Homo sapiens: one gene and its partners. The protein of the gene in region 3 purifies or fractionates together with the protein of the main gene of each other region. This does not show direct contact. Each region holds a gene or a part of one and is shown on either strand. Other genes may lie near its edges.

What was found.
Region 1: the proteins of USP34 (region 3) and PTCHD1 purify together in Homo sapiens (co-immunoprecipitation; one study listed by IntAct). This does not show direct contact.
Region 2: the proteins of USP34 (region 3) and ANKRD22 purify together in Homo sapiens (co-immunoprecipitation; one large-scale study listed by IntAct). This does not show direct contact.
Region 4: the proteins of USP34 (region 3) and ZNF765 purify together in Homo sapiens (co-immunoprecipitation; one large-scale study listed by IntAct). This does not show direct contact.
Region 5: the proteins of USP34 (region 3) and ZFYVE19 fractionate together in Homo sapiens (co-fractionation; one large-scale study listed by BioGRID). This does not show direct contact.
Region 6: the proteins of USP34 (region 3) and ZNF627 purify together in Homo sapiens (co-immunoprecipitation; one large-scale study listed by IntAct). This does not show direct contact.
Region 7: the proteins of USP34 (region 3) and ZFP57 purify together in Homo sapiens (co-immunoprecipitation; one large-scale study listed by IntAct). This does not show direct contact.

The regions. Positions count from the first base shown.
Region 1 is NC_000023.11:23,386,849-23,390,348, forward strand, and holds part of PTCHD1 (patched domain-containing protein 1), read left to right. Parts: intron 1-3,500. UniProt on the Homo sapiens protein: Required for the development and function of the thalamic reticular nucleus (TRN), a part of the thalamus that is critical for thalamocortical transmission, generation of sleep rhythms, sensorimotor processing and attention. Can bind cholesterol in vitro.
Region 2 is NC_000010.11:88,827,845-88,831,344, reverse strand, and holds part of ANKRD22 (ankyrin repeat domain-containing protein 22), read left to right. Parts: intron 1-2,678; coding exon 2,679-2,786; intron 2,787-3,500.
Region 3 is NC_000002.12:61,209,088-61,212,587, reverse strand, and holds part of USP34 (ubiquitin carboxyl-terminal hydrolase 34), read left to right. Parts: intron 1-658; coding exon 659-816; intron 817-3,500. UniProt on the Homo sapiens protein: Ubiquitin hydrolase that can remove conjugated ubiquitin from AXIN1 and AXIN2, thereby acting as a regulator of Wnt signaling pathway.
Region 4 is NC_000019.10:53,393,793-53,397,948, forward strand, and holds the start of ZNF765 (zinc finger protein 765), read left to right. Parts: upstream 1-1,356; 5' UTR 1,357-1,401; intron 1,402-4,150; 5' UTR 4,151-4,156. UniProt on the Homo sapiens protein: May be involved in transcriptional regulation.
Region 5 is NC_000015.10:40,812,837-40,815,584, forward strand, and holds the end of ZFYVE19 (abscission/NoCut checkpoint regulator), read left to right. Parts: coding exon 1-66; intron 67-501; coding exon 502-581; intron 582-876; coding exon 877-975; intron 976-1,106; coding exon 1,107-1,234; intron 1,235-1,311; coding exon 1,312-1,390; 3' UTR 1,391-2,248; downstream 2,249-2,748. UniProt on the Homo sapiens protein: Key regulator of abscission step in cytokinesis: part of the cytokinesis checkpoint, a process required to delay abscission to prevent both premature resolution of intercellular chromosome bridges and accumulation of DNA damage.
Region 6 is NC_000019.10:11,600,483-11,603,982, reverse strand, and holds part of ZNF627 (zinc finger protein 627), read right to left. Parts: intron 1-3,500. UniProt on the Homo sapiens protein: May be involved in transcriptional regulation.
Region 7 is NC_000006.12:29,678,353-29,682,635, reverse strand, and holds the start of ZFP57 (zinc finger protein 57 homolog), read left to right. Parts: upstream 1-1,483; 5' UTR 1,484-1,574; intron 1,575-4,283. UniProt on the Homo sapiens protein: Transcription regulator required to maintain maternal and paternal gene imprinting, a process by which gene expression is restricted in a parent of origin-specific manner by epigenetic modification of genomic DNA and chromatin, including DNA methylation.

The DNA of each region.
Region 1 (3,500 bases), on a different chromosome or scaffold from region 3:
AAACTGAAAGATCATCCATCAATCAGCAAGCCATCCCATTTCCTCCTTCTTAGCCATTCCTTACTTTGAGGAACTCAGGATGAGGAAATCCTGCTAGTGTGGAGAGGTTTAAAATGTGAGTAGCACCCAGCGGCATCTCTCAGCTGCTGTGTTGTGGCTATGTATACTGGGACAGGCGCGAAAATCTGGGACTGAAGAAAAATCTGACTTACAAAATCCAGAAGTATTATACAAAGTAGATCAATTTGCCTACGATTATTCATTGAAAACCAAACAACAACAAAAAAATCACCCAGACTGTCTCCAATAGCAAAACCACTAAATACATTTAAAATATTATTCACTTTATGAGCAACTTTCCAGAAGTATATCTACTGGGTAAAGAAAGGTTAACTCTCAACTATTTGTTAGTAGATTCTGTCTTACCGGATTATAAACAACCCTGAAGGCTTTGGTCAGGCCCCAGAAAGTTCTGGGTGACAGAATTAATCTCTGAGGGTGCTTGATAGTCACCCTCAGTGATGGGAGGATTAGCCAGTTGAATTTTTTTTTCCGCCATTAGTGTTATTTATCATGTGTGCTTCTTTTTCCCTTCATTTGCTCCAAAGTCTGAGAGTTAACAACACATTCAGATATAAAAATTCTTTTGAGAATAAGAAAAATTATTAGCCTAAATTCTTTAGTATTTTATTTTATTAGATGACAACCCCAAAGTGTACTGCAAATAAAATTAATAAAAGCAGTTTTCTTTTTAAAATCACACTCCCGGCCCAAATTTTGCCTCAACATTAGTGAAGAGCCCTGCTGGCCTGACAAAAACCTCGAGCTGCCTCAGAGTATTCACTCACGAATAATTAGAACTTGGCGCTCCCTTCAATCTCTCTCTCTCTCTTTCTCTTTATGTGTGTGTGTATGTGTTTTTACATACTGATATGCATTTGTTCTTATGCATGTAACAATACAGACATGCAGGGTAACAAAAATAGAAACAAACATCTTGAATATGCTTTTAAAGGACAAGAGAATGCTTTAGAAGCATTTTTATCTTCAAAATCTGATAGAATCAGTATGTGTTTAACAGTTCCCGTTGGCAACTCCTCAGTCCTGCACTGTGACTGTAAAAGAAGGAATCCCCTGGGATGTTGTATCATCCAGGGTAATCCTTGGAATGTGAGGATGTCAGGATGTGGAGGTTCCTGATATCCTCACTGTGATATATAGTCTTTTTACCCCAAGGTCTCAGGCTGCGACCTGGCCCTCAAATGATGAGTCATGACTCCCAATAACACCACAGGGTCCCTACTGACCAAAATCAAAATCTGTATTTAGGTAGCTCTGCCCTGGCCCCACCCCATGAGTTCTGTCACCAGGGAGTCCTTGTGAACAGACTTGGGACTTTGGAGATGGGAAATTGTTATTTGCCAAAGTCATGCTTTGTGCCAATGACATAGGCCCACTGGTCAGATTTAACAGAGAAGCTTATAGAACTCCTACTTTGTAGAGAAGTTTTTAAAACTAGAGTGCAAAGCAAACAGCAGTACTTTTGCTTTTAAAACACCTTTTTAAAAAGTAGGAAACAACAGTCAGACCTCTGAAAAGTATCTTCAGTCCACATGCAATATCTGTTTGCCTACGTCTGTAAGATTTGGCGTCAGAGTTCCGCTTGCTGAACTACAGCCCCAAAATTAGGAGAGTGGGTTGTGCGTGGTGGCTCATGCCTGTATAGAATCCCAGCACTTTGGGAGGCCGAGGCAGGCAGATCACCTGAGGTCAAGAGTTCAAGACCAGCCTGGCCAATACGGTGAAACCCCATCTCTACTAAAACTACAAAAATTACCTGGGCGTGGTGGCATGTGCCTGTAATCCCAGCTACCCAGGAGGCTGAGGCAGGGGAATCGCTGGAACCCGGGAGGCCGAGGCTGCAGCGAGCAGAGATTGTGCCACTGCACTCCAGCCTGGGAGACAGAGTGAGACTCCGTCTCGAAAAAAAAAAAAAGCAATGAATGATGATGATGCTAAAGGAGGTAGCCATCCACTGAAAGAGGAAAGTGGAGAGGAACAGAACCTACCAAAATCTATCTTCTCTGCCTCTCCTTGACTCCAGGTGGCCCAGTTTCTGGAGTGCTAGTAAAAGATAAGGTCAGACCTGACTGAAGGAAAAACTGAAGAAATTCGTCTCTGTGAAATTCTCCTACCTGCCATTTCCTCTTTATTCCATTCCCATGTCCATTCTCTGTCCCATTCCCCAGACCTAAGGGAAGCTGCTTCAGTAGACCACTGTCCCAGAGGAGTTTACATTTAAAAGGATACCCTTGAAAGTTCCAAGGGGAACTCGGATATAATTCCGGCATTCTGGAGGGCAGGATGGTCCTCGTGTCCTAGGGCTTTTGGAATGTGTCTCCCCTTGAATCCAGGCCAGAACACAAGAGTCCTCACCGATGGCCTTTCCTATAGGATAACAGGCCGACCTCTTCAGCAAAAATACCCAGCTATGAGCCAGGACAGCTGCCAGCCAGGCACTCCAGGCTGTTAATCCTTAAGAGGTGACCACAGCTATGTTAGCACTTGTCCCTCCCTTGACTGACAAACCTTCAGGAAGGAGGCCCAGTTATGGTATCAGCAATTGTCCCAGAAATCCAAAGGGCTCTTGTAAGATGCTGTAGAACTCCAGTTTGGGGATTCGGGTGTAGCAATCTGCTCGAGAGGTGTGGCTTGAGAAAGGAATCTGACCTATCAGGAATGGTGGTCGGGGCCTTTGGAGGCAAAGTCAGGCACAACTAGCAACAAATGCTGAGTGATCGGTTAGAACAAATTCTTTCTCAGGGCCTCTTCTGATTTCTGTGAGTGGCTGCATGTACACACCTGTAGCAAGAAGGAAGAACTAAGGAAAGGCATCGTTTCCAAAAGCCCCTCAGAAGAAAATTAGAATTCTCTTTGGAGCTGCCCCCAAACCAAGAACATATGCAAAAAGAGCCAGGACTCAAAATAAAAGATCAAACTATAGAAGGACAAGGCATTTAAAATGCAGCAACAGAACTCAAGAGAGAAGCTAACAGCCTACTTCCACCTTTCCTTGATTTTGATTACTTTCATTCTTGACCCTGGAGCCTCAGTCTTGTCACCTAATATCTCTGTTAATTCAAATTCCTTTTCTCAATTAGCTTCTAAGATTATTCAACAGCAAGGTATGAAATTGATTCTTATTGTATTTTCCAAAAATCAGGGTCAGATAATGTCATTATAAAACATCACACTGATTTTTAAAAGAACTGCAAAACAGATTTAAGTTCTATTATATGACTAATTCTAATTCCGCTATATGCTTTATTTTCTTGCCATATTTAATAACTCAGTACTAAAACCCTGTTTAAATTTTTTGTTTCTGGCAAGTAAATATCATTAAAAAATTATTTGCCATTTATAGTGATCCCCTGAAGTGTGCTTTGCCCACCAAAGCTTACTTGCTCTACATGGCCCCAGGAAAAAAAAAAAAAAAACAA
Region 2 (3,500 bases), on a different chromosome or scaffold from region 3:
TGAGCCAGAGGTTACTTGAAGTCACACAAAAAGGTGTAAAGAATATATTTAAAGATGCAATATTAGCTACTTTGGAGCCTTCAGGACCAAGAAAGAGAAGAATATGTGTGTATTGCTGTGAAAATCCTTGTGGAGCCCTTTCTGAACATCTAGCATTTGCATCGTAGTGAAGGCAATATTTAAATTACACTGAATAAATATTAAGCCATTTTTTTGCAATCATTATGACTGTCCTGTACCCACTTATATGCATTCAAGGCGAGAAAACACTGGAAATCCCCCCTTGCCCCTTCTAAGTCATTTGGAGACTAGCTCATCAGGAGTAACAATGTATTATCAGAAAATTGATCATTACTGGACTTTTTTATTTATGCTTACTATTTTTGGTTTGGTTGCGATTAAAAGCAAGTCATGCCTGTGCTGAATGGAACAGATATGCAACATCGTGGACTATAATAGGATCTCTGTAGATCACTGCTGTGAAACCAGATATGTGGAGTTGCAGTGAGTGGTAGTGCCAGAAGACAGATGTCTGTGGGTTCCTGCGCTCTTTTAAGAGGTGCGCTCGTTAGGAAACTGAGGGAGGAGACGTTAGCCCATGGGCAAGGCTGAGGAGACACTTTTATCTCCGCTTTGCAGAAGAGGAGGGCCTCAGCCAGCCTGCTGGGATTTTCTGGTATCATAAAAACCATGAAAAAGACTTTAGTGGATACATTAGATTAATAGATTTTATCAGTAGAAGTTTTTGGTTTGCATTTTCCACTTTCAAATGTTTCTAATGTTAGCATTTAATATTTTTATTTTCTCCAAATATTAATATTTGTACATTAATAATTTGAACCTGTGATTTCTCATGTCTGAAATCTGTTTATAAATTATTTCCAGAAACACTAAACAAACAAACACCTTAAAAACAAACAAACAAACAAAAAGCTCTGCTGGAGATTCAGAAGCACAAGCCTATGGATTCTATTGATAGCAAATTAAATTAAAACATAAAGATCCTTGTTTTTGTCTGTCAAACTGACCAAGATTAAAAAAGAAAACAAATGTTGATCAGAAAGTTTAAGTTATTATTGTCTTATTAGAACACAATTTGATAGCGCAATATGAAAAGCATTAATACTTTTTATGCCAGGAATTCTATTTTTAGAAATGTAGGCAAAGGACAAATTTGGAAATGTTGACAAAAATTTATGAATGAGCAGGTTCAGGCAATATTATTTATAAAAATGAAAAGTTTAAAACTTGAAACGGGCCATGTGCAGTGGCTCATGTCTGGAATCCCAGCATTTTGGGAGGCCAAGGTGGAAGGATAGTTTGAGACCAGGAGTTCAAGACCTGCCTAGGCAACATAGCAAGACCCCCGCATCTCTACACAAAATAATAATAAGTAAAAAATTATCCAGGTGTGGTGGCACATGTTTGTAGTCCCAGCTACTTTGGAGGCTGAAGTTGAAGGATCGCTTGAGACCAGGAAGTCAAGGCTGCAGTGAGCTAGGATTGTGCCACTGCACTCCCGCCTAGGTGGCAAAGCAAGATCCTGTCTCACAGAAAAACAAAAACAAAAACAAAACCCTCAAAAACCATGAAATGTTCAAAAGGCAGGGCTTAGCTAAATACATCAGAGTAGTTCCACTCAATACTAAGCCATGCAGCCATTACAATCATATGTTTAAAAATATTGAATTGCATGGAAAAATGTACATATTCTAAATATACGTTTCTGAACTGAAAAAAGCAAGATATGATATTGCATATGCAATATCATTCTACATTTCAAAATTCCACATTTATGCATTTAAGAAGACTGGAAGAAAATACAACAAAATGTCAACAGTTAACTCTGGACCATTTAATATAATAATGGGCAATTTAAAATTCTATCGTTATGTTCCTCTCTAGTTTCTAAAATTTTTTTACAGAAAATATAAATGCCTTCATATTAGAAAAACAAAAAGTGTTCTTATTTAGGTACAGTGCCTTGCATAAGTGGAAACTAACCTCCTTTCTTTCTCTTGGGCTCCCTCTCCTCTTACTGATTTGATTGGTATTCCAATTACCACCTTCTGTTTTGCCTTATATTTATTTGTGCATATTTCTGTCCATCTTTGATTATGAGGCCCTAAGAGTTCACATCTCCCACAACCCTTGGAAGCTGACATCTATTACCTGATAAGTATTCACATATTTGAAGAATAAAATTGAGTTATATGCATTCTTCTAGACTATGCACATGAAGGAACATGAAAAACAGCCATGTGGTTAAGAGTTTTCCTATGAACAAACCACAAAATGGATAATCGTACACATGGTAGATGATTAAGGGATAACTATCAATTTTCATAGTAAATTCAGTCCTAAGTTTATATCTCAGTGTATCTTTTTTTCCAAAAACTAAGTGGGTATAAGAATCTGTCTTCTGATGAGCTCTGCTGTGTACATTTCACCTTTGTTGACTCCCAGGAGCCCTTCCCTAGCTTTTCCTTTACACTGGACCGAGTTCTCTGTTCTGCTCCATGGAAAGCCGCATTCAGTAATCAGATGTATCCCACAGGAAAAGATGCCATGGGTACCGGAAAAACAAAAAGCACAAACTAAACTTTTTGAGATGGCCATCTGAATAAATTTTGAATTGAAATGCTTTATTAGTAAAGAATCCTTTTCTTAATTTTTAGAAAGAGAGAACCTGCTTGCATTATGCTGTGAAGAAAAAATTTACCTTCATTGATTATCTACTAATTATCCTCTTAATGCCTGTTCTGCTTATTGGGTATTTCCTCATGGTGAGTACAACACTTGTAGAGCAAAGGGCAAATGTGGAGATCGATGGTGTGACTCATTGACTCTTGCCAGGCCAGTGAGATGTTGAAAAGAAATAAAAACAAAAAAAGCCTTTGGTTTGTATTCTGTAATTGACATGTTCAACATACATCCAATGCTATAATTGAAGTACAGCAAGAAGAAAGCTAGCAAAAATAGTTAATCAATGGTAACATAATCCATGCAATGTTGATTTAGAAAAATAATTTAACCTTAACTAAGACTTTTCTGAAGGGAGCAAAAAAATTCTGAATATTAAAAAACACCCCTTCTAATATTTTTTTCTCCTTTTTTTAAAAGAGGAGTTTGTGTTTTTGGATTTATCTTTCTGACTTACTGATTTTTAAGTACTCCTCTGGTGGTGTGTTGAAAAACAGATCCTAAAAGTTTGCATCCAGAAGCTGACACACACAGAAGATACTTGTTGAGAATTTAAGCCCATTTTCACCTTGATGAATTTCTTCATGCTTGGATGAATCTTGGCAGACAGCAATTTTCTTGAATAAAGAAAGATGTAGTTGGTATAGAGATGCAGTCATATGAGGAGTAGAAGATGAAGCTTGAGATGGTTTTTGGTTTTTTTTCCCAATAGGGTAACAGATCTGCACTGACTTACTCACTTTTATCCATCTAGTTTCCTTTGTGCCCAGTTCCACTTCTCAGACATGACTCAAGAG
Region 3 (3,500 bases):
CACAGCTAGTGATTTTACTAAAATATTTGTTTTTACTTTTTATTCATCAGGAAATTGAACTGAGCATCATTCTAGAAAAGCATTTTAAATGTTGGAACAAAGGTTTACCTCATATACACTATTAATTTAAGGGTTATTTAGGCATTTAAAATCTTTGTGACAAAGTAATGATTTCTCATTAATTAAAGAAAAAGTGGATAGGAGATGGTGTGGCATGCCTCTGGGTTTACATTTGAAGTTACAAAAGTAGTGCTTTAAGCAGTAATAAGACTAAAAATGAATTGTATTCACTTACAGTTTTTACTCTTTCTAAACTTGTATTTTAAGATTTGTTGAGTTCTTTTAGTGTTTATTATTATTGTTATTATTTGTATTTTAGTAGAGACAGAGTTTCATCATGTTGCCCTGGCTGGTCTCGAACTCCTGAGTTCAGGCAATCTGCCCGCCTCTGCCTCCCAAAGTGCTAGGCATCAGCCACTGCGCCCAGCCAAAATTTTTTAAATAGAATTTGTTACTGATTTTATAACTTTCTGAATGGAAGTATAATCTAGCTTATTTGTATAATTTTAAGAGTTGATTAATGAACGTAGAAATGAGAAACTGACCTTCTAAAATGCTATAGGGTTAAAAGATCATATGGCTTATTTGGCTTTTTTAGGCAGTAGAAGAACTGTTTAACCTGATGCAGCTGTTTATAGCTCAGAGGCCAGATATGAGAGAAGAAGAATTAGAAGATATTAAACAGTTCAAGAAAACAACCATAAGTTGTTACTTACGTTGCTTAGATGGCCGCTCCTGCTGGACTACTTTAATAAGGTAAAAAGATGTTTTTAGTTTTGTCTTGTTTATTTCCAGTGAGATGAGGACCATCCTTTTGATGTTTAAAGATAAATCATTTACATTGGGGAAGCATTTGTGCATGTAGCCACTTTGGAACATTTTGAAGGTTCATGAACTACTTTTAAACAGTTTTTGGTCTGGCTTTGGTTTGTATTTGTGTATGTTTTATCATTTTAGGGTTGAAGGGAACCTTTATGTATAGCCTTCTACCCAAAGCTTGAATAGTCTTGTTTATGGCAATTTATCCTAACTCAGGCTTGATAGTTCAGTTCTAGAGGCCTCCAGGAAGTTTTCTGCACCTTTGGATGAGTCTGTTAATATTTTGCATTCTGTTTAGCCCAAATATATCTATCTGGCTTTCTGATCTATATGACTTGGCCAAAATTATAAAACATAGTCTTTATAATTAATTTTCAGAGCTACAGAAGTTATTGAATGGTTACAGGAACTACTACAAATTACCCTTAATTCCCCTTAACCTAGAGAAATAAAGTTCAGGCTAATTTCTTAAATTCTTCTATGTATTACATCTAAGACTTGGAAGTGTTGTTTTTTATTAGGCACATTTTTTTTAATGGTACTTTACTGAAGACTTCACTGTAATATCTTAAGCTACTCAATCTAAGATGAGGTTATTTCAGATTGTCTTCTTTGGAAAGCTTTCAAATGTGAGTCTTCATTAGTAAACAGGGAAATTAACTACGCCTTTGCCGGATTTCTTAAAGGGATTGTTTTTAAATTTTGGATTAATTTTGAATACAATTGTTTTCCCAAAGTTTACTACTTAAAGCTTTATTTCAAAAAAGATTTAGAGCAGCCTGGGCAACATAGTAAAACCCCATCTCTATATAAATAAATAAGTTAGCAAATAAATTAGGGTGTGACGGCATGCACCTGTAGTCCCAGCTCCTCGGGGGGCTGAGGTGGGAAGATCCTTGAGCCCAAAAGGTGGAAGCTGCAGTGAGCCATGATTGTGCCATTGTACTCCAGCCTGGGTGACAGAGCGAGTCTCAAAAAAAGAAAAAAAAGATTTGGAGCTTTCTTAACTCTTCTTGAAAAAGGAAAGGAATAAAGTAGAAGGATTTCCAGTTGTAGTCTATAACAACATTTTTCTGGTATCTAATGAAAGAAGACCTGTTAACAGTAATATAGCTGTGTGAGTAATTATAGTCATGTGTTGCATAACAACAGGGTTACATTCTGAGAAATAAATTTTTAGCCTATTTCATCATTGTGCAAACATCAGAGTGACTACTCACACACAACTAGATAGTAGCGCCTGCTACACCCCTAGGATATATGGTATAGCCAACTGTTCCTAGGCTCTAAATCTGTATAGCATGTTACTACACTGAATACTGTAGGCAATTATAACAGAAAGGTAAGTATTTGTGTATCTAAACGTATTTAAACATAGAAAAGGTACAGTAAAAATATGGAATAAAAGACAGAAAATGGTACACTTGTGTAGGGCACTTACCATGAATGGTGCTTGCAAGACTGGAAATTGCCCTAGGTAAGCCAGTGAATGAGTGGTGAGGGAATGTGAAGGCCTGGGACATTATTGTACCCTACTATAGACTTTATAAACACTGTACACTTAAGCTACACTAAATTTATTTTAAAATACTTTTTCTTCATTATTAATGTACTGAACTTTTTTTACTTTATAAGTTTTTTTAACTTCTTGATTCTTCTATCGTAGCACTTAAAACACACTATCATAACACTTAAAACACACATTTTATAGCTGAACAAAAGTATTTATATCTTTATAAGCTTTTCATATTTAAATTTTTTTTCTTTTTAAATGTTTTCGTTAAAAACTAAGACATAAACACACACAATTAGGCTAGGCCTAGCAGGGTTGGGATCATCAGTATCTCTGTCTCCCACCTCCACATCTTGTCCCACTTGGGAGGTCTTCAGAGGCAGTAACTAGCTTAGAGCTGTCATCTCCTCTGACAATGATGCCTTCTTCTGGAATCCCTCCTGTAGGGCCTGTCTAAGGCTGTTTTACATTTAACTTTTTTTGAAATAAGTAGTAAAATAATGATAATATAGTAAATACATAAACCAGTAACATAGTCATTTATTAACATTATCAAGTATTAGGTACTGTACATAATTGTGGTATACTTACAAGACTGGCAGTACAACAAGTTTGTTTATACCAGCGTCATCAGAGACATGTGGGTAATGCATTGTGAATGTTACCATGGCTATGAAGTCACTAGGCTAATAGGAATTTATCAGCTCCATTATAATCTTATGGGACCACCATTGTGTTTGTGATCCATCATTTACCACAATTTCATTTTGTGGCACATGACTGTATTTTATAAACTATTTTCAAGGCTGACACGTTTTTAGTATTTTTTTCCTTCATGTTACTCTTTTTTAATTACCAGCTGATGAGTGTTTAGATAATATGGTGAATTTTATGATTATCCAGAATTTAACAATCAGAAGATGAGCCTATTATAAAAATCAACATTGTTTATGTGGAAACTTTAAAAATATTCCCATATCTTCTGCCATTGTAGATAATTAGCAGTTGATTAGATATTAATAGACTTTTTTTTAGTTAGAGTTTATTTAATATTATTTCCTTATGCTGCATTTCCAGGAAACAGATGAAGCAGTCTCTTTTCTGTAGG
Region 4 (4,156 bases), on a different chromosome or scaffold from region 3:
AAGGGTGTTGTCAAGTCCTTTTCCCTGAGGACTGATTAGTGTTTATCTTGAAAACATGTACTTAATGGGTTGTATAGAACTGTGAAGTGTCTTTCTCTTTTTTCAACCTCTTAGCTCTTTGCCTCTATTTCCCATCACATTCTGGTCTAAGGCTTACTTATTAATAAAATGGTGTTTATTTCTTTCTCTATTATCGTCATGGAGATGTTTTGTCATTTGGGGGAAGATTTTTTTGTTTCGTTTTCAATTGTATTTTCTTAACAATTAGAAAGTGAAGTAAAAAGTATTTGGCCAGGCGCGGTGGCTCCCGCCTGTGATCCCAGCACTTTGAGGAGGCCCAGGCAGGTGGATCCCTTAAAGTCAAGAGTTTGAGACCACACTGGCCAACATGGTGAAACTCGTCTACAAAAATACAAAAATTAGCCGGGCATGGTGGCACGCGCCTGTAATTGCAGATACTCTGGAGGCTGAGGCAGGGGAATCGCTGAAACCCAGGAGGCAGAGGCTGCAGTGAGCCGAGATCCCATCACGGCACTCTAGCCTGGGCGACAGAGAAATACTCTGTCTCAAAACAAAAGAAATAAGTAAATAAATAAAGGAATAAATCTCTTCCAAAAATGTGCTGAGGCAACTAACTGGATATCCACATGGAAAAGAATACTGTTAGATCCCTATCTCACACAATCAAACTCTTATTTTAAAACGTTTAAAAAAAAAGGAAAAAAAAGAGAGAGTGACGAGGAAGGGAGCCCTGCGGGAGGGGGTGTTACATTGTCGCCCAGGCTGGCCTGGACCCCCAGGCTCAGCAATCCTCCCGCCGCTGCTTCCTGAGTAGCTGGGACCTCAGTCTCCCGCGCCCGCGCCCACATCCCTGCTGTGTTTATCCAGAAGGTGGTGACCTCACTCCTCGCTGGCCTGAGCATTCCGTCCCACATCCCAGGCGGTGGCCCTAGGGAAGTCTCTGCAGCTGAGCACAGGGTGGACTCTCCCTCCCAAGTGAATGGAGACTGGAAAGGGAGAGGATTTCTATTCTGTTTTGTGGGCTGTCAGCATGAAATCGTACGTTCCATCCAGGCAGGGCTTTGCATTTTACATTCCAGTTTGCATCCCCGTTCCAGACAATTCCAGGGCTTTTGAATCATGCCTCAGCCTTCCTGGCCGGTCTCGCCTCCAAAACCCGAAAACTGAGGCCCTGGGAGCCAGGCTGAGAGACTCACAGGTCCCGCCACAGCCCCGCCCTCTGTCGGTTCTAAAGGGTAAAGTCTCTCTGCCCCGCCCCTACCTCGCCCAAGCCCGCCCACCTCCTCGCGGGTCCCGCCCAGGCCTGGCTTCTTTCCTGCGCGCGCAGCTTCGCGCAGACCCGGAAGCGGACGGCGTGGAGTGACTATCCCACCGCCGCGGGTGAGTTTCGCTCTGTTTTGTATTAAGTCTGTGCTTCCCAGGTCCCTGGCGCTTCTGTACCTGGGGCGTGGGGTCTCCACTAACCTGGAAATTCTCAGCCGTCTTCCTTCACCCAGAGCAAGTTGAGACGACCCCGTGAGAGTCCGGGGGTCGCTTCCTTTTGGGTTTAAGGTCCCCCTGAGGCTGGTCCCGTCCCGGGTGTTTCTGCTATAGGGCAATGTATACACTTTCTATCACGTAGTTTTCCTGCTCTGAAACTTTTTCTGACTCCTCCCGTCCCGCGCTTTTTAAAGTCCTCACCCGAGAGGTGAATTCCCTCCCTGAGCGCCTCCCAGTCTCGCCCTCGTTGGCAGCTGGACGCAGCGCGGCGGCCCCAGCCCCAAGGAGGCCGCGTCCTCTGTCTGGTCCTGGGATCCTGCAGACCCCACCCTTGTCTTAAGGCGCCGTGGCGCCGCCGCCTCCCTCCTTTTGCGGGCCCTACTGCTCCCCAGGTTCGCCTCCACAGTCACTGCTTTCCCTGAGCCCGAGTTAGGGAGGTGCCCGGGGCCTGTCCTGTGACACGGGGTGTTCTTGCCTGCCCAGCTCCAGCCCCTGGAAAATGCGCTCCCCCGGGATGCAGGCGTTTTGCTCCAAACCCTCCTGTGTCTTATCCAAAGCCTCCGGTGCTTGTGTAGGCTAAAGGGATCAGGAGACAGACGTAGAGCAGTAGAAAACCTGAGACAGAAAAGAAGAATAAAAAAGACTCATAACAGATGGCAAAGTAGAGGATGGGTGAGGGATTTGCCAGACACAGCAAATGTGGGGGAAAAAAAAAAAAAGGAGGAGAAAAGCAACTGGAGAAATGTAGAGAAAAGGTAGATGTACAGAGAGATGAAGGACAGAGAGCAAGGTAGGGAGAGGGACAGCAAAGAGGGAGGCTCATCAGAGTGAGGGAGAGGAGGAGGGATTTGGAGCCAGGGCAGACAGAGCAGAGTGGTGCTGGTGGCAAGGAGAACAGAGGGAGAAGCACAGCAGGGAGGACACCTGGGGATCTGGGGTGCTAGAGAGTGGGGATGAGGGTATAACAGGGAAGAGAGAATGTAACAGGGAGAGCAGAGGAGGCGCAGAGATGGTGTTGCGGGAAACTAAGTACTAGAGAGACCGGTATGCGGGAGACAGAACGATGTTTATTTAAGGTACGCACCGGCTCAGTGGATTTACATCTAAAAAGCTGAGCATTTCAACAAAGACAGAGTGGGGTTTTTATAAGCAGGCTTACAGAAGCAAAATAAAAGCAGTTAATCATGTAATGATTGGTCACATAATCTATAGCATAGCATAACTTGTGGCCTTGCATAGCTGGTGGTCTTGTAGCTGCATTGAAAGAAAAACAAGAACAGCTAAATACAGACTTTTTTTTTCTTCACTCTTGTTCTAAAGTGGGGTTTTCTGGAGCTCATTCCTTTGGCTTCAGCTGCACAAAAAGCGTTATCTTATAACTGTCCTTGAAGTGAGCTTGCTAGGCAGAGGAAAACTTGTTCTTCTTTTCTTTTTAACCCTTGCCTTGCCTGTTAGTTTTTTGGAGTGAATGAATGCATATTGATTTTTTAAATTTCTGCCTCAGTTTTCTCCCTTTGCTGCTTTTTATAAATAAGGTTTTAATAGAAAGCACCACTATTACTGGATTCTTCATGAAAGAGCAGGTTTTCTTCTTTAGGCACAGGCTGATATTTATATGGAGCTATTAGCTGAGTGGTAGTCTGCCTAGTCACAATTGCTTCTATAGTTGATTGAACGTTCTTAACAAGGAGAGGTGAGGTAAGGGAGTATTAAACCAATTCTTAGTATTTCTAGAACCACTCCTGTTAAGGTTTTGAATCGACTGAAGGAGGAAAACCAGCCTCTAAAGAGGGACTCGGGAGTCTACTTTGTCTAAGTCTGGACTGGAACATGGGATAATTTTTTTATTCTTGCAGTTACTTCTATAACAGCCTTCCTATTGTCATTGATTTCTAGGCAGCAATTAGTTAGATTAAACTTTCTACATACTCCTCCTTCCTAGGCTAGGAGGTAGTCGAAAGCTAATCTATTTTGGTAGATGGCATTTCTCATTTTTGTGGCTTGCTGGGCCAGTAAGTCTAATGCATTTGCTGTTTCATTAGTGATGATTCCAAGTACTGCTTGCAACTTTATGATGCGGTTAAGCGTGTAAACTTAAGTGTGCCCGGCTCAATTTTTGAATTTTTAGTAGAGACAGGGTTTCACCATGTTGGCCAGGCTGGTCTCGAACTCCTGAGCTCAAGCGATCCTCACACCTCAGCCTCCTAAGTAACTGGGACCACAGACACACAGACGTGCACAACCATGCCTGGCTAAGTTTTTGTACTTTTGGTAGAGATGGGGTTTCACCACGTTGCCCAGGCTGGTCTCAAACCTGAGCTCAAGAGATCTACGCACCTCGGCCTCCCAGAGTGCTGGGATGACAGGCATGAGCCACCGCACCCAGCCTTTGCATGAGGTTTGGTCAGGCCTGGGTCTGTGCCCTAAAGGGGAGCTCATCCCACCCCAGCTCCCCACTGCTGCAGCGTGTGTGTGGGCTTCTCCGGGAGGGGAGTGGGAGTTTTCCTGTAGGAGTTTATTGTCCCTGGTGTGGTCGGCAGCATAGGGGACCGTATGTCCTCAGGATGAGGTCTCCTTTGTATGTGTTGTTGTGTTACAGGGAGGGGATATGTTGATTCTGAGCAATAAACAACATATTTCTAACATTCAGGATTGA
Region 5 (2,748 bases), on a different chromosome or scaffold from region 3:
GGCAGGAACGGATTCTGGCCCTGGCCAAGCGACTAGCCATGCTGCGGGGACAGGACCCCGAGAGAGGTGAAGGCTGGGGAGCAGCTGCTCACTGGTATCCCTTGGTCAAGGCCTCCCTGGCAGGGCTGAGTCAGGTGCTGGGGGTATTTGCGCCCAGAGATCTACTGAGCCCAGCCCAGAGCCACAAGGAAGGTGGTAGAGCAAAGCAGTGGGTGAGGAGTCAGGGGCAGCCATGAGGGCAGGGGACCTTCAGTCCATTCAGGGGCTGAGGCTTTCGCTCCAGCCCCCAACCTAGCCCTCAGGCCTGCTTCAGTGATGGCCCAGCCCTGCAGGGCTGGGGCAGGCAGGGACAGGTCATCAGGGTGGCTGAAGAGGCTTCTCAGCTCTGGAATAAGTGCCCCTGGGAACCGAACCAGTTCTGGGAGGCAGGAGGGCAGCCACTCATGTGAAATCTCTCACTCTCACTCCCCCATCCCCTGTTCCCATGTCTCCCTCTTCAAGTGACCCTCCAGGACTATCGCCTCCCAGACAGTGATGACGACGAGGATGAGGAGACAGCCATCCAAAGAGTCCTGCAGCAGGTGGGCCTGGATTACCCACCTGCCACCCCTTGTCCCGTCTCCGCCTCATTGCCCCACCTCTACTCTGGGGCTGGGTGGACAGTAACTGTGAAGCTCCTGTTCTCTTTGGGCCCCCTCCTGTGACCCAGACCCAGACCTGCCCACTGGTCCCTGGAGATAGGGAATCAGCAGCCACAGGCCACAAGTAAAGAAAAAGATGAGTTTGAGAAGCTAAGTCCACAGTGCACAGAAATACTGGGAGATGGAGGGCCTGGGCCTGAAGCAGGGGAGTAGTACATCTTCACCCTGTCCGCAGCTCACTGAAGAAGCTTCCCTGGATGAGGCAAGTGGCTTTAACATCCCTGCAGAGCAGGCTTCTCGACCCTGGACGCAACCCCGCGGGGCAGAGCCTGAGGTGAGAAAAGCCCCAGATGCAGACCCCCAGGCTCCCCCCAGCCTTGCTTCCTGCCTGGCTGACTGCTCCTGCAGCAGCTCACATACCCCACTGGGTACCTTACTTCCTCCATTCCTCTCTGATCCCTGAAGGCCCAGGATGTGGACCCCAGGCCTGAGGCTGAGGAAGAGGAGCTCCCCTGGTGCTGCATCTGCAATGAGGATGCCACCCTACGCTGCGCTGGCTGCGATGGGGACCTCTTCTGTGCCCGCTGCTTCCGGTGGGTGCAGGTGGAATGTTCTGTGCGAGAGCTCAAGGGCTGCCTGGATCCCTGACTTGTATCCCTTTGTTCCACAGAGAGGGCCATGATGCCTTTGAGCTTAAAGAGCACCAGACATCTGCCTACTCTCCTCCACGTGCAGGCCAAGAGCACTGAAGACACCCTGGTCCTCCCGGAAGGGCAGTCCCACAGGCAGCGGCACCCATTTCTGGGCCCAGCCACAGGACGTCCGATGGGAGAGCTTGTCTGGCTCTACTGATGATGGATAGGCCCCTTCCTGAGCCTTGGTGTCCCTGGAATGAGGAAAGATTCTCCATTCGAGAGAATGACTGGGAGGGAAGAAGTCGGGGCCCTCCTATTAGAAGCCCAGACTGGAAGTGAGAGGCATGATGGGGAGAGACCAGACTGAATCTACGGGTGAGCCCTGTAACCTGGCTCTAGGGCACAGGCCCCTCCCCTGGCACTTAGTGGGTCTAATAAAGTATGTTGATTCATTGGGCCCAGCATCTCATTTCTACAACCCTATGAGCCTGGGCCCTGTGAGAGGTGGCAGGAACAGAGCAGGCTGTAAGCACAGTTGTGGGGAATGGGGGAAAAGGTTGAGCCATCCTATGAACTTCTCCAGGCAGGAACAGCCCTACCCATCCTGGTGGCCTCATACGAAGTAAACATGTATTCATTCAACTCAACTGTGCTCCAGCTCTGGGCAGCCCCACTTAGCCACCAGTCCCCACCATCTTGGATTTCTCAGCCTCTCTACTACTCACACAATGCACGCAGGAACAATGCACACACACCCTGCTTCCTGCCTTACTGGCAAAGGACCCCAGCTCCTAGGGCTCCTGTCCCAACCTGCCTGCCATTCAGTCTCAGTATCTCTCTTCCAGTAATGCGCCCTAACCGGACCCCTGACCTCTCGGCATGTACCCTTTACATGCCTCTGCATTGCCTCTGCTGTTTCTCTTCCTGCCCCTGGCTGGAACCAACTATAAAGAGCCCTCGGGCTGAGGTCTACCTCCTGCATCACTTTTGGTTGGAAGAGCCTTTTCTGAGGCTCTCAGATCCAGCTAGGTTTTTCCTGTTACTTCCTCTCTGGGATTTGAAACTAGTCTTTGCCATTGGCGTCCCTCTTGTTGGTTATGCCAGTAGGCTGTGTACCTTAGGCAGATAATGTCTGCTTGGCCCCGAGGCCTTGCTAGATTGTGATCTCTCTGAAGTGGAGCTGTGACTTTCGTCTTTGAATTCTTGAGTCCTTTGGATGGATGGATGGATGAGGTGTGTGGGCACAGCCAAGTGACTTAGGTTGTGGCCTTCCTGTGTATCACTTCATTCTCTCCTCCCCTGTCCCTCAGCACAGATATGTTCCACACTCCATTGAGCTGGGGCTCCTAAAGGTTTTATCCACTTGGCTGCCAAGGAAGGCATTGGACAACAGCCAGCTTTCTCCCAGAGAGCCCAGCTGACAGAAACTAGCTGTGACCACACAGACAGTAGGAGTATGCAAATGTCCCTCC
Region 6 (3,500 bases), on a different chromosome or scaffold from region 3:
AAAAAAAATTAGCCAGATGTGGTGGTGCACACCTGTGGTCCCAGCTACTTGGGAGGCTGAGGCGGCAGGATCACTTGAGCCCTGGAGGTCTAGCCTGCAGTGAGCAGTGATCGCACCACTGCACTCAAGCCTGGGTGACAGAGCAAGACTTCGTCTCTTAAAAAAAAAGAAAAGTAGGGGAAAACAATCACCTGTGGAGGAGAATAAGGAAACTCTAAGTATTATCTGTTCAATTTTTCTGTCAAACTACAACCGGTCTAAAAAATAAAGTTTATTAAGTAAAATAGTGAATAAAATACCATTTCATGGAAGATTCACAGCTATGTGAAATAGACAGATGGCATACAATATAACATATAGGATGATATCACTTCCACAAAAAACAGACAAAAATAAGGCCGGGCGTAGTGGCTCACACCTATAATCCCAACACTTTGGGAGGCATAGCTGGGTGGACTGCTTGAGCCCAGGAGTTCAAGACCAGCTTAGACAGCATGGCAAAACCCCGCCTCCACAAAAAAAAAAAATACAAAAATTAGCTGGTGTGGTACTGTGCACCTGTAGTCCTAGCTTGTTGGGAGACTGAGGTGGGAGAATCACTTGAGCCCGGAGGCAGAGGTTGCGGTGAGCCAAGAGCGCCACTGCACTCCAGCCTGGGCTACACAGTGAGACTCCATCTCAAAAAAAAAAAAAAAAAAGGCTAAGAATAGCCAAGATGTCGTACAAAATACAGTTAGGATTGTTAACAGACTGAATGTTTGTATTCCACCACCATCCCCTGCCCAAACTTTCATTTGCTGAAATCCTAACCCCCAAACTAAATGCAGAAACCAGCATGCGTGAAACAAACAGGCAAAGAAACCAAAAAAAAACTCTTTTTGGCATAATATTAATGGTAATAACTTACTAAAAATTCAAAAGAGGAAGAGCCAAGCAAAATTCAGCCTAATGATAAATAGATGGTAAAACTATGAAGAACCACCTTTTAAAAATGAGGACCTGGTCACCTGTGGGTACAGACGGGAGACAAGATCAGGACATACCAGAAATGCCCAATGCCCATTTATGAACCTGGGTAGTGAGTCCACAGGTGTTTCACACAACCCACTCTCCTCTCCTCACAGTGTGGAAATGCTCCCTCCTCCAGGGTCTCAATTCTCACCAGCGAACACTTACCCAGAGCCAGGTGAAGGTTCTGATCTCTAGTGTCTTTTTTCATATACCATTTCTGACACCAAATGTGTGGTGTTTGCTGAACACAACCAAATCTCCAATTCTCCAACACCAATTAAGCATTCAAATCAATTCTGACACTACCCAGAGTTAACGGGGACCCCACAAGTTCAGGGCTCATTACCATAACAGTGCCCCACTGCAGATGCCAGTCACAAGCCCCAGGGATCACCCATACTTCTCAGCAACTGCATATAAATCAGAAATGGCGAAATGGAAGGGATGGATGTAAGGGAAAATGGCGGCAGAAGATTGGGCAGGTATGTAATCCTGGAAATAGCTATGGTTAAAGAAACTCCCCCGTCTTTTGTATTCTGCAGGAGCAGGTTACGCAAAGAAACACTCTTCTCATTATGACTTAGATGACACTGCTTTTTTACCTATGACAAAGCCATACACAGACTAGAAATTCCCTTTATTTTCCTCACAATTGATTAGCTGAACAGCTCTGTCTTCAGTGATCAGTCAGAACAAAGTACCTGTTAACAAAACTTTGGTTAAGTTTCTCTTCTTCCTCCAGCCCCTGAACTTTGACCCACCCCCAGCCTGAGCCTATATACAACCCCTCTGATGACCCTCCTAAGAAGAGACTGCCTTCAGGATCTAGGTGGGATTTTGCACCCTGCATCCTGCCTTCCACCTCCCACCTTCTTTCTCATCATTTGCTCCTCCCTACAAAAGAAAATCCTTTTCTGCATAAACTCTGAGATGCTTGCAGATTTTTTTTTTTTTTTTTTTTTTTTTGAGACAGAGTCTCACTCTGTCGCCCAGGCTGGAGTGCAGTGGCGCGATCTCGGCTCACTGCAACCTCTGCCTCCTGAGTTCAAGCGATTCTCCTGCCTCAGCCTCCCGAGTAGTTGGGATTACAGGCACGCACCACCATGCCCGGCTAATTTTTGTATTTTTAGTAGAGATGGGGTTTCACTATGTTGGTCAGGCTGGTCTCAAACTCCTAACATTGTGATCCACCCACCTCGGCCTCCCAAAGTGCATGGATTACAGACGTGAGCCACCACGCCCAGCCTGAGATGCTTGAAGATTTTATACTTGGTGCCTTCTCCCCTTTCGATTATCCTTTAGAATAGTCATTCCTGTCTGGTGTGGTGGTGCTCCCCGCCCCACCCCCATAATCCTGGAATTTGGGGAGGCTACGGTGGGAGGATTGCTCGAGGCCAGGAGTTAGAGACCAGTCTGGGCAACATAACAACGTCCTGTCTCTCTTAAAAAAACTTTTTTAAAAATATAAGCCAGGCATCATGGCACATGCCTTTAGTCCTAGGTACTTGGGAGGCTGATGTGAGAGAATTCCTTGAGCCCAGGAGATCAAGGCTACAGTGAGCTATGATCGCACCACTGCACTCCAGCCTAGGAGACAGAGTGAGACCCTGTCACACACAAAAAAAATAAATAAATAAAAATAAAATAAATCACTCCTTACCTAAATCCAGATTTGTTTCATTAGAAACGTCTACAAACAGACCCAAGATAATAGCAAGTACATTCTCAGAAAGGCATCACCTCAACCACCTCTGCCTATGAATCCCCAGCTTTCCAGGGCTCTGAGCTTCTCTCACTATAAAGGGCTCCACCCAAAGTCAGTTGTGAGCAGCTGGGACACTGCAGGGGAGGCTCCTCAGCAAGAACCACTGGGCCTGTAATGTCCTCTCTTTGAAGGCTCAAGATTGGTCTTAGTTTCAAGTCACTAGTCTGCTGTCTCTGTTTCCCAGTCAAGGTTATGCATTTAATTTTCAATGAGAAAATACCCAGGGTTTGAAGATTCCAGTAAAATCACTCAAATTCACTGTTTATAGCAAGGAAGGAAATTGTAAGGCACTTATATTTCATACCTTAACAGGAAAAGTAAAAGTATCCATCCTCTTCAGACAATAAACATGTTATTTATTCTTTCTATGGTAACAAATCATGTACTAAATCATATTGGAACACTTCTAGGAGTTACCAAGTCCTGTCCTACTAGGACTTCGCATTAAACTCTGATGTCTAGATAACAGGAAGAGAACAGTTATCCACTGTCACAAGTTTGCCACCCTGCAAAGCAGAGGAATTGATGTTTTGGTGAATCTCTGTAATTCACCAATTTATTTGCTACACTTACTTGTGGAAATGTATTCATTTTCTGCAGTCATGATAGAAGAGAGTTTTCTCTCTCTCTTTTCCTTAGTATTCCCAACACTAAGCCCTGGAATTCCATTTTAAATCACCACACCCCACCCCCACAAAAAAAAACAACATACTTGAGAAACTTA
Region 7 (4,283 bases), on a different chromosome or scaffold from region 3:
CAGCACTTTGGGAGGCTGAGGCAGGCAGATCATGAGGTCAGGAGTTTGAGACCAGCCTGACCAACATGGTGAAACCCTGTGTGTACTAAAAAAAAAAAAAAAAAAAAAAAAATTAACCGGGTATGGTGGCACGCACCTGTAATCCCAGCTACTCAGGAGTTGGAGGTTGCAGTGAGCTGAGATGGCGCCACTGCACTCCAGCCGGGGCAACAGAGCGAGACTCTGTCTCAAAAAAATAAAAATAAAAAAATAAAAGAAATCTTTTCTTCATCCTTCATGAATGTCCTGTCACAAGGTTTATCAGCAGGCATTCTTTTTTTTTGTTCTGTTTAGAAATAGGGCCTCACTCCATTGCCAAGGCTGGAATGCAGTGGTGCAATCATAGCTCACTGTAACCTCAAACTCCTGAGCTCAAGCAATCCTCCCACCTCAACCTCCTAAGCACCTAGGACTAAAGGCATGTACCACAACACCTGGCCAAGTTGTTTTCATTTTTTCTAGAGAAAGGGTCTTGCTATGTTGCCCAGGTTGGTCTTGAACTCCTGGCCTCCAGCAATCCTCCCTCCTCAGCTTCCCAAAGTGTTAGCATTCCAGGAGTGAGCCACGGGGGCCCAGCCTAGACATTCTTTAGTACTATAGTAATTCAGATAAGATGCTCTTGAAAGAACACTTGCCCAGTAACGGCAATGTCTCCCAAGTAGCTGGGATTACAGGTGTGCGTCACCACCACCGGCTAACTTTTGTATTTTTAATAGGGACAAGGTTTCGCCATATTGGCCACGCTGAGGTCGAACTTCTGACCTCAGGTGATCCGCCCCCTCAGCCTCCCAAAGTGCTGGGATTACAGGTGTGAGCCACCGCTCTCAGCCGCGTGTTTTAATCATAATACTTTGGTCTTTTTTTTTTTTTTTCGTAAATACTTTCCTCTTTTTTTTTTTTTTTTTTTTTTTTGAGATGGAGTTTCACTCTTTTTGCCCAGGCTGGAGTGCAGTGGCGTGATCTGGGCTCACTGCAACCTCCACCTCCCGGATTCAAGCGATTCTCCTGCCTCAGCCTCCTGAGTAGCTGGGGTTACAGGCGCCCGCCACCACGCCTGGCTAATTTTTGTACTTTTAGTAGAGACGAGGTTTCGCCATGTTGGCCAGGGTGGTCTTGAACTCCTGACTTCAGGTAATTCACCAGCCTCGACCTCCCAAAGTGCCGGAATTACAGGTGTGAGCAATCGCGCCCAGGCTTTTTTTTCTTCTTCTTTTAGAGTCAATTAAGACTGGGAAAGCGAAAATCCTAGCGCTACTTGGGACCAGCAGCTATCAGTTGGTCGGAGGCTCGAAGTGGTGGTGCATGGCCGGGCTGTCTGTGATTCTTAGGATGGGAAGCTTGACCTTGGCGGGCTCACCCTCTCATCTGGGTCAAGGGGCACATTCTCGGTGGCCTGATGACTGGGAGGGAGCGGAAGAGGGCGGGGCCGGGGTGGGGCCGCGGCGCCGGGACTGCGGGTGCTCGGCCGGAGCGCTCCAGCCGCTGGTCCCCGGGAGACCCTGTGCCCCTAAATCGCGGTCCACTGCGCGCGTCAGGTGAGTAGAGCGGCGGCGGGGAGTCGCGCTAGCGGTAGTAGAGGCTGATGTTGGATGTTGTCCCCACTCCTCTGACTCTTCCGCAGGCCAGGGGAGCACTGCGCCCCTAATCTTGGAGGGGCTTCCAACCTCTGGGGTCCTCCGGGGAAACGTGGGTTAGTCTGGGGTGTATCCAGGTGCCCTGTCCACTGTGGGCACTCTGGGGATTCCGGGCCGAGGAAGGGCTCCTGGCACGTGTTGAAAAAGTCGGCATCCCAGAAGGAAGATTCTGGGCGGATGGGCATCGGGGAAGGTAGTCCCAACCAATGGGACCGTTTCTGAGCACATAAGCGCATTCAGTGGGTGCTAACAAGCGCCTGCTTTGCCAGGCGACAGTGAGCAAAACCGGCTTTGTTCCCGGCCACCGGAAGCTTCGAGGCTGGGGTTCCGGATCTGGGCGCCCAATGACAAACTAAGCGCGGAGGACAGGGCCAGGAGCGCCCACCAGGGCGGCGATCTGGTGGGTAGGTGCAGGGCAATGGCTGGAAAGGGTCCCCGAAGCCCTGAGCAGAGACCAAAGGGCCGTGCGACTGCAGGAAGGCCATTTTGCTTGGCTGACAGGCGGAAAACTCACGTGGCTGGAGTAGCAGGGTTGGTGACGACAAGGGTGAATCCCACTAAGCATTGCAACTGTTTGCGGTGTGAGGGGTGAGGGGGATTCTCATCATTCTCAGAATTGCTGTGGATAAAGGGTTTTGGGTTGGAGAGAGACTGGGTGCACTCAAAGGACTGAAAGATGGCGACGACACATTCCCTCAGAGGATTTACATTCTGGAAGGGTGGGGACAGGCCCGGGTACAGATAAGCCCGCAGGCGGCCTCCAGCTCTTACAGTCGAAAGTCTGATGAGTTATGCCCAGTCTCCTTCCTCCTCCCGCCGGCATGAGGTTTGGGGCCCTGTGGATGAAGGAAGTTCATGGGAGGCAAACGTGCCTGGGCAAGCAACAGCCGCAGAGATTCAGTCCCCACGGGGGTTAGAATCCACACTTAGGGCCTCTGCCTACCGCCTCCAGCAAATGCCATCTTGAGGACTAGCGGCAGCAGTAGGTCTTCTCTGCCAGAGAACTGGAAGGCCAGGTTCTTGAGGGCACTGTTACTAAGGCGTTTTTTTTTGTTTGTTTGTTTGTTTGTTTGTTTTTGAGACGGAGTTTCACTCTCATTTCCCTGGCTGGAGTGCAATGGCGCGATCTCCGCTCACCGCAACCTCTGCCTCCCGGGTTCAAGCGATTCTCCTGCCTCAGCCTCCCTAGTAGCTACGATTACAGGCATGCGCCACCACGCCGGGATAATTTTGTATTTTTAGTAGAGACGAGGTCCATGTTGGTCAGGCTGGTCTCAAACTCCTGACCTCAGGTGATCCGCCCGCCTCGGCCTCCCCAAGTGTTGGGATTACAGGCTGAGCCACCGTGCCCAGCCTTATTAAGGCTGTTTTGAAGTGCAGTTGGCTGGAAAGTGGAAGAATAATCCAAGATCTGCATGCCTCATAAAAGGAGTGCGAATGGTTTTGAAAGACAGGAAAGGAAAGGGAGAGAGAGGAAAGAAAGAGAGAGGAAGAAAGGAAGGAAATCAAATTCATATCCCAGGAATGCACCTTTCATGACAACATTTTGGAGATCCAATTAACTCTATTCCTCGAGGGCGTTTTTCCTTGCTGGTATTTTCAGTTCTATTAACACTTCTCAAAAAGTGAAAGGAAAAAATAGTCAACAGGGTTTTTTGGTCTTTATTCTTTTCTTTCTATCTCTAGTAAGGGAGATGTGGGTGAGTGGCTGTCAGCAGGAAAAGGTGAGAGTTCAGCTATGTTTGCATCTGAGCAGGAAATTTCCAAGGATGAGCAGGGAACTCCAGTGCTGGGCTCATTGTGAGCCCTGAATAAGTGATTGCTCTTGGGTTGTTAGCAGTATTCTTCACAAAGATCTGTATATACAGTGGTTCCCCTTATCCACAGGTGATATGTTCCAAGAGCTCTAGTGGATACTTTGTTTTTGTTGTTGTTTGAGGCAGAATCTCGCTCTGTCACCCAGGCTGGAGTACAGTGGCACAGTCTTGGCTCACTGCAACCTTCACCTCACGGGTTCAAGTAATTCTGCCTCAGCATCCTGAGCAGCTGGGACTACAGCGTGCCACCACGCCCAGCTAATTTTTGTATTTTCAGTAGAGACGGGGTTTCACCATGTTGGCCAGGCTGGTCTCAAATTCCTGCCCTGAAGTGATCCACCGCGCCCCACCCCAGTGGATACTTTGAAACCATGAATAGTACCAAACCCTGTATACACTATGGTTTTCTTTTTCTATACATACATAATAATGATAAAGTTTAATTTACAAATTAGGCATGGTAAGAGATTGACAACAATAACTAGTAATAAGATAGAACAATTACAGCAATATATTGTAATAAAAGTTGTATGAATGTGGTATCTCTCTCAAAATAATTTATATTGTAAATCTTAGCAACCTCAGCATATGATTATTTTTTCTTTCCTTAAGACAAGAATTTTTACCTTTTTATTTTATGGCTTCTCTTTGCATATCTGAATTTCCAGCGTCTCTACTCTTGTGCTTTTGGGTCATTATTAAGTAAAATAAGGCATTCTTGAGCACAGGCAACTGCTATACTACAGTAGTCAACCTGGTAACTGAGATGGCTAGCTACTAAGGAACTAATGGG